Homo sapiens: one gene and its partner. The gene in region 1 interacts genetically with each later gene. Each region holds a gene or a part of one and is shown on either strand. Other genes may lie near its edges. The genes, in order: RNF4 and TBP.

The links.
Region 2: of RNF4 (region 1) and TBP, changing one enhances a phenotype caused by changing the other (phenotypic enhancement), as found in Homo sapiens cells (one study listed by BioGRID).

The regions. Positions count from the first base shown.
Region 1 is NC_000004.12:2,471,930-2,475,747, reverse strand, and holds part of RNF4 (E3 ubiquitin-protein ligase RNF4), read right to left. Parts: intron 1-3,818. UniProt on the Homo sapiens protein: E3 ubiquitin-protein ligase which binds polysumoylated chains covalently attached to proteins and mediates 'Lys-6'-, 'Lys-11'-, 'Lys-48'- and 'Lys-63'-linked polyubiquitination of those substrates and their subsequent targeting to the proteasome for degradation.
Region 2 is NC_000006.12:170,557,369-170,561,186, reverse strand, and holds part of TBP (TATA-box-binding protein), read right to left. Parts: intron 1-3,818. UniProt on the Homo sapiens protein: The TFIID basal transcription factor complex plays a major role in the initiation of RNA polymerase II (Pol II)-dependent transcription.

The DNA of each region.
Region 1 (3,818 bases):
GGGAATCACTCAACCATAGATATTAAATCATGAGTCTGGAGTCTGAGACCAGCCTGGACAAAAGGGCAAGACCCAGTCTACAAAACTTTGTTAAAAATTAGCCAGGTGTGGGCCAGGCGAGGTGGCTCACGCCTGTAATCCCAGCACTTTGGGAGGCTGAGGCGGGTGGATCTTGAGGTCAGGAGATCGAGACCATCCTGGCAAACACGGTGAAACCCTATCTCTACTAAAAATACAAAAAATTAGCTGGGCATGGTGGCACGTGCCTGTAGTCCCAGCTACCCGGGAGGCTGAGGCAGGAGAATGGCGTGAACCTGGGAGGCGGAGCTTGCAATGAGCCGAGATCGCGCCACTGCACACCAGCCTGGGCGGCAGAGTGAGACTACATCTCAAAAACAAACAAACAAACAAACAAAAAGCCAGGTGCGGTGGCGTGCGCCTGTAGCCCCAGCTACTTGGGAGGCTGAGGTGAGAGGATCTCTTGAACCCAGAAGTTGGAAGCTGCAGTGAGTTACGATCGCACCAATGCACTCCAACTGGGGCAACAGGGAGATATTCTCTTAAAAAATAAATAAAAAATGCTAATGATCATTTGAGTCTTCACAAAGTTGTAATATTTTTGCTGGTGAAGGGTCTTGCCCTGATGATGGCTGCTCATGGATCAGGGCAGTGGCTAATGAAGGTTGGGGCAGCTGTGACAGTTTTTCTTTTTCTTTTTTTGAGATGGAGTTTCACTCTTGTTGCCCAGGCTGGAGTACAACGGCGCAATCTTGGCTCACCGCAACCTCTGCCTCCCTGGTTCAAGCAATTCTCCTGTCTCAGCTTCCCGAGTAGCTGGGATTACAGGCATGCCCCACCACGCCCAGCTAATTTTTTTGTATTTTTAGTCGAGACGGGGTTTCTCCATGTTGGCCAGGCTGGTCTGGAAGTCCCAACCTGAGGTGATCCGCCTGCCTCGGCCTCCTAAAGTGCTGGGATTACAGGCGTGAGCCACCGCACTGGGCCAACTGTGACAATTTCTTAAAATGAAGTTTGCTGCATCAGTTGTCTCTTCCTTTCATGAAAGATTTCTCTGTAGCGTGCAATGCTGTGTGACAGCATTTTACCCACAGTGGAACTTCTTTCAAAATTGGAGTCAATCCTTTCAAACCCTGCCACTGTTTTATTAACTAAGTTTATAAAATATTCTAAATCCTTTGTTATAATCTCAACAATGTTCACTGCACCTTCAGCAGTAAATTCCACCTCAAGAAACCACTTTCTTTGCCTGTCCACAGGAAGCAACTCTCCATGTGTTCAAGTTTTATTTAAAAATTGCAGCAATTCAGTCACATCTTCAGGTTCTACTTTTTTTTTTTTTTTTTTTGAGACAGAGTCTCGTTCTGTCAACCAGGCTGGATGGAGTGCAATGGCGTGATTTCGGCTCGCTGCAACCTCTGCCTCCTGGGTTCAAGCGATTCTCCTGCCTCAGCCTCCTGAGTAGCTGCGATTACAGGTGCGTGCCACCACACCTGGCTAATTTTTTTGTGTGTTTTTAGTAGAGACGGTGTTTCACCGTGTTAGCCAGGATGGTTTCAATCTCCTGACCTCGTGATCCGCCTGCCTTGGCCTCCCAAAGTGCTGGGATTACAGGTGTGAGCCACCTTGCCTGGCCCTTTTATTTTTTTGAGACAAAGTCTCACTCTATTGTCCACGCTTGAGTGCAGTGGCCCGATCTTGGCTCACTGCAACCTCTGCTTCCTGGGTTCAAGCAATTCTCCTGCCTCAGCCTCTGGAGTGGCCGGGATTACTATGCAGTAACAATCCCACTACCACGCTCAGCTAATTTTTGTATTTTTAGTAGAGACAAGGTTTTATCATGTTGGCCAGGCTGGTCTCCAACTCCTGACCTCAGGTGATCCATCAGGCCCAGCCTTCAGGCTCTACTTTTTTTTTTCTAGACAGAGTCTCGCTCTGTCGCCCAGGCTGGAGTGCAGTAGTGTGATCTCGGCTCACCACAACCTCTGCCCCTCCAGGTTTAAGCAATTCTCTGCCTCAGCTTCCAGAGTAGCTAGGATTACAGGCGTGCGCCACCACGCCCTGCTAATTTTTTGTATTTTTAGTAGAGACGGGGTTTCACCATCTGGCCAGGCTGGTTGTGAACTCCTGACCTCGTAATCCACCCGCCTAGGCCTCCCAAAGTGCTGAGATTACAGGCGTGAGCCACCAGGCCCGGCCAGGCTCTACTTCTAATTCTAGTTCTCTTGCTATTTCCACCACATCTACAGTTACTTTTTCCATTGAAGTCTAGAACCCCTCAAAGTCACCCATGAGGGTCAGAATCAACTTTTTCCAAGTTCTTGTTGTGTTAATTGATTTTTTTTTTTAAGACGGAATCTCACTGTTGCCCAGGCTGTAGTGCAGAGGCACAATCTCGGCTCACTGCAGCCTCCACCTCCTGGGCCCAAGCGATTAACCTACCTCAGCTCCTCAAGTAGCTGGGACTACAGGAGCGTGCCACCATGCCTGGCTAATTTTTGTATTTTGTTGGTAGAGACGGGGTTTCACCATGTTGGGCAGGCTGGTCTCAAACTCCTGACCTCAGGTGATCTGCCTGCCCCAGCCTCCCAAAGTGCTGGGATTACAGGCGTGAGCCACCGTGAACTGCTGATGTTGATATTTTGACCTCCTCCCATGAATCACAAATATTCTTTTTTTTTTTCTTTTTTGAGATGGAGTCTCGCTCTGTTGCCCAGGCTGGAGTGCAGTGGTGCTATCTTGGCTCACTGCAAGCTCCTCTTCCCGGGTTCACACCATTCTCCTGCCTCAGCCTCCCGAGTAGCTGGGACTACAGGTGCCCGCTGCCAAGACCGGCTAATTTTTTGTATTTTTAGTAGAGATGGGGTTTCACCATGTTAGCCAGGATGGTCTCGATCTCCTGACCTTGTGATCCGCCCACTTCGCCTCCCAAAGTGCTGGGATTACACGGGTGAGCCACCGTGCCTGGAGACAAATATTCTTAATGGTATCTAGAATAGTATATCCTTTCAGGAGGTTTTTAATTTACATTGTTGATACCCATCAGAAGAATCACAATCTATGTAGCTGTAGCCTTACAAAATGCATTTCTTTCTTTCCCCCTGCCGCCCTTTTTTTTTTTTTTTTTTAAGAGACTGGCAGTGGAGGGGGTGGTCTCACTATGCTGCCCCGGCTGGTCTCTAACTCCTGAGCTCAAGCGATCCACCAGCTTTGGCCTCCCGAAGTGCTGCGAGTACAGGCATGAGCCACTGTGCTCAGCCTCAAGATGCATTTCTTAAGTAAGATTTGAGAGTTGAAATTACTCCTTGATCCATGGGCTGCAGAACAGATGTTAACATTAATCTTACTCATCTCCATGAGACCTCTTTGGTGACTAAGCACATTCTCAATGAGCAGTAATATTTTGAAAGAAATCTTTTTTTCTGAGCTGTAGATCTCAATAGTGGGCTTAAAATATTCAGTAAAACATACTGTAAACAGATATGCTACTATACAGGCTTTCCTGTTTCAATGATCAGCACACAGTAGATTTTTGCATACTTCTTAAGGGCCCTAGGATTTTCAGAATGGTAAATGAGCACTAGTTACAACTTAAGTCACTGGCCACACTAGCCCCTAACAAGAGAATCAGACTGTCCTTTGAAGCCAGGCATTGACCTTTCTCTAGCTATGAAAGTCCTAGATAGTATTTTTTTTTCCATATAAGGCTGTTTCATTTACATTGAAAGTCTGTTGTTTAGTGTGGCCACCTTCATCAATTATTTTAGCTATATGTTCTGCATAACTTGCTGCAGCTTCTT
Region 2 (3,818 bases), on another chromosome or scaffold:
ATGCTTTATTGCTAAAAATGCTAACAATCATGTGAGCCTGCAGCAAATCATAATCTTTTTGCTGACAGAGGATCTTGCCTCGATGTTGATGGCTGCTGACTGATCAGGGTGGTAGCTGTGGCAATTTCTTAAAATAAGACTGACGAAGTTTGCCACACTGACTGACTCTTCCTTTCACTGAAGATGTCTCTGTAGCATATGATACTATTTGACAGCATTTTACCCACACTAGAACTTATTTCAAAATTGGAGTCAATCCTCTCAAACCCTGCTGCTGCTTTATCAACTAAGTTTATGTAATATTCTAAAGTCATCAGTTCTTCACCAGGAGTCAATTCTATCTCAAGAAACCACTTTCTTTGCTTACTCACAAGAAGCAACTCCTCATCTGTTCAGGTTTTATCAAAAAATTGCAGCAATTCAGTCACATCTTCAGGTTCACTTCTAATTCTAGTTCACTTGCTATTTCCACTACACCTGCAGTAACTTCCAGCACTGAAGTCTAGAACCTCTCAAAGTCATCCACGAGGGTTGGAATCAACCTCTTCCAAACTCTTATTCATGTTGATATTTCACCCTCCTCCCATGAATCATGAACATTCTTAATGGCATCTAGAATGGTGAATCTTTTTCAGAAGGTTTTCAATTCACTTTGCCCAGATTCATCAGAGGAATCACTATCTATGGCAGCTACAGCATATGTCCCTCCCTGCTTCCTTTCTTTGAGACAGGGTCTCCATTGTAGCCTTTAACTTCTGGACTCAAGTGACCCTCCCGCCTCAGCCTCCCAAGTAGCTGGGACTACAGGCACATGCCACCATGACCAGCTAATTAAAAAAAAATTTTTTTTTGTAGCAACAGGGACTTGTTTTGTTACCCAGGTTGGTCTTGAGCTCCTAGCTTTGAGTGATCCTTCCACCTTGGCCTCCCAAAGTACTGAGATTACAAGCATGAGCCACCATGCCCTGCTGTATTTCTTAAATAGTAAGAATTGAAAGTTGAAATTACTCCTTGATCCATGGGCTGAAGAATGGATATATTATTTAAGCAGGCATGAAAACAATATTAATCTCCTTGTTCTTCTCCATCAGAGCTTGTGGACAACTAGTTACACTGTCAGTGAGTAATATTTTGAAATTAAACTTTTTTTCTGAGCAGATCTCAAAGAGCTTAAAATATCCAGTAAATCATGCTGTAAACAGACGTGCTCTCATCAGGTTTTGTTGTTCTGTTTACTGAGGACAGGCAGAGTAGATTTAGCGTAATTCTTAAGGCTCTATGGTTTTAGAGCAGAACATGAGCATTGGCTTCAATTTAAACTCACCAGCTCTATTAGCCCCTAACTAGTCAGCCAGTCCTCTGAAGCTTTGAGGCTAGGCACTGATTTCTCCTCTCTAGCTATAAAAGTCCTAGATAGCATCTTCTTCCAGTAGAAGGCTGTTTCATCTACATTAAAAATCTATTATTTAGTATAGTCACCTTCATCAATTATCTCAGCTAGATCTTCCAGATAACTTGCTGCTTCATGTTGCATTTTTATGTTGTGGAGAAGGCCTCTCTCCTTAAAGCTCTGAATAAACCTCTGCTAGTTTCAAAACTTTCTTCTACAGCTTCCTCTCCGCTCTCAGCCTTTACAGAATTGAAGAGAGTTAAGGCCTTGCTCTGTATTACACTTTGGCTTAAGGGGATGTGTGGGTGGTATGATCTTCTATCCAGACCATTCAAACTTTCTCCATATAAGCAATAAGGCTGTTTTGCTTTCTTATCACTTGTGGGTTTACTGGAGTAGCACTTCTAATTTCCTTTAAGAACTTTTCCCTTGCATTCACAACTTGGCTAACTATTTGGTGCAAGAGGCCTAGCTTTTAGCCTGTCTCAGCTTTCAACATGCCTTCTTCACTAAGTATAATCATTTATAGCTTTTGGTTTCAAATGAGAGATGTGCAGCTCTTCCCTTCATCTGAACACTTAATTAAAAGTCACTGTAAGGTTATTAATTAGCCTAATTTCCATATTGTTGTGTCTCAAGGAATAGGGAAGACCAAGCAGAGGGAGAGAGATGGGGGAATGGTTGGTCACGCTGCAGACATTTATCAATTAAGTTCCTGTATTATACAGGTGCAGTTTATGGCATTCAATAATAATTACAATAGTAACATCAAAGATCACTGATCACAATAACAGATAATAATGAAAAGGTTTGACTAGGCACAGTGGCTCATGCCTGTAATCCCAACACTTTGGGAGGCCAAGGCGGATGGATCACTTGCAGCCAGTAGTTTGACACCAGCATGGTGAAACTCCGTCTCCACTAAAAATACAAAATTTAGCTGGGTGTGGTGGCGCATGCCTGTAATCCCAGCTACTTGGGAGGCTGAGGCAGGAGAATCGCTTGAACACGGGAGATGGAGTTTGCAGTGAGCCAAGACTGCACCACTGCACTCCAGCCTGGGCAACAGAGTGACTGAAAAAAAAAATTAAAAAAAAAATACAAAAAAAAAGAAAAAAAAAAGTTTGATAACAATAACGGATAATAATGAAAAAGTTTGAAATCCTGCAAAAATTACCAAAATCTAACCCCAAGACATGAAGTGAGTACACACTTTTGGAAAAATAATGCCAACAGACTTGCTGGGTACAGGTTTACCACAACCTTCAATTTGTCAAACATGCAGTAAAGTGAAGTGCAGTAAAGTGAGGTGGGCCTGTGTATGAGTGGCTGACAAGCACTTGCCAAGGTGCTCAGAAACATTAGTAATCAGGCAAATAAAAATCAAAACCACAATAAGATACTACTAAGCAATCACTAGAGTGAAAGTAAAAAGACTGACAGCAGAAAGTGTTGGTGAGGATGTGGAGCAACTTAAATCTCTTATGCTGCAAAACAATACAGCCACTTCAAAAAACAGTTTGGCAGTTTCTTATAAAGTTATACATATACCAATATAGGACCTAGCAATCCTACTCCTAAGTATTTACCCATGAGAAGTAAAAACAGTGCATTCAAAGTCTACACAAATGTTTACAGTGCTTTTATTCGCAATAGCTCCAAACTGGAAAGACCCCAAATGTGAGCAACTGGAGAATGGATGAACTGTGGAACATCCAAACAATGGAGTGATACTTAGCTATACAATGGATTAACTACTGATATACAAACAGTACACTGGGCTAAGAAGTCAGACATACACAAAAAAGCATACACTCTGATTCCATCTATATGAAATTCTAGAATAGACAAAACTAATCTTCAGCATTGAAAAGCAGATGCAGTAGTTACCTGGGGCCAGCAGAGTGACTATAAAGGGGAAGAAGGGACTTTTTAAGGTAACTGAAATGTTCTGTAATTTATACATTATATATAATTATCAAAACAGACACTTAAAATGAGTTTTTTTGTATGTATATTTCAACAAAAGTTATTGATTTTTTTTTTTTTTTTTTTTTTTTTGAGACAGAGTCTCGCTCTGTCTCCCAGGCTGGAGTGCAGTGGCACGACCTCTGCTCACTGCAACCTCCACCTCCCGGGTTCAAGCAATTCTCCTTGCCTCAGCCTCCCGAGTAGCTGGGATTACAGGCACCCGCCACAACACCTGGCTAATTTTTGTATATTTTGTAGAGATGAGGTTTCACCACGTTGGCCAGGCTGGTCTCGAACTCCTGACCTCAGGTGATCCGCCCACCTTGGCCTCCCAAAGTGCTGGGATTACAGGCGTGAGCCACTGCACCCAGGCTGAAAAATTTTTAAAGTAGATGGGTGGTTGAGAGCTTGAAATGTAAAAGGGGAAAAATAAAACTAGAAAATAATTTGGTGAGGG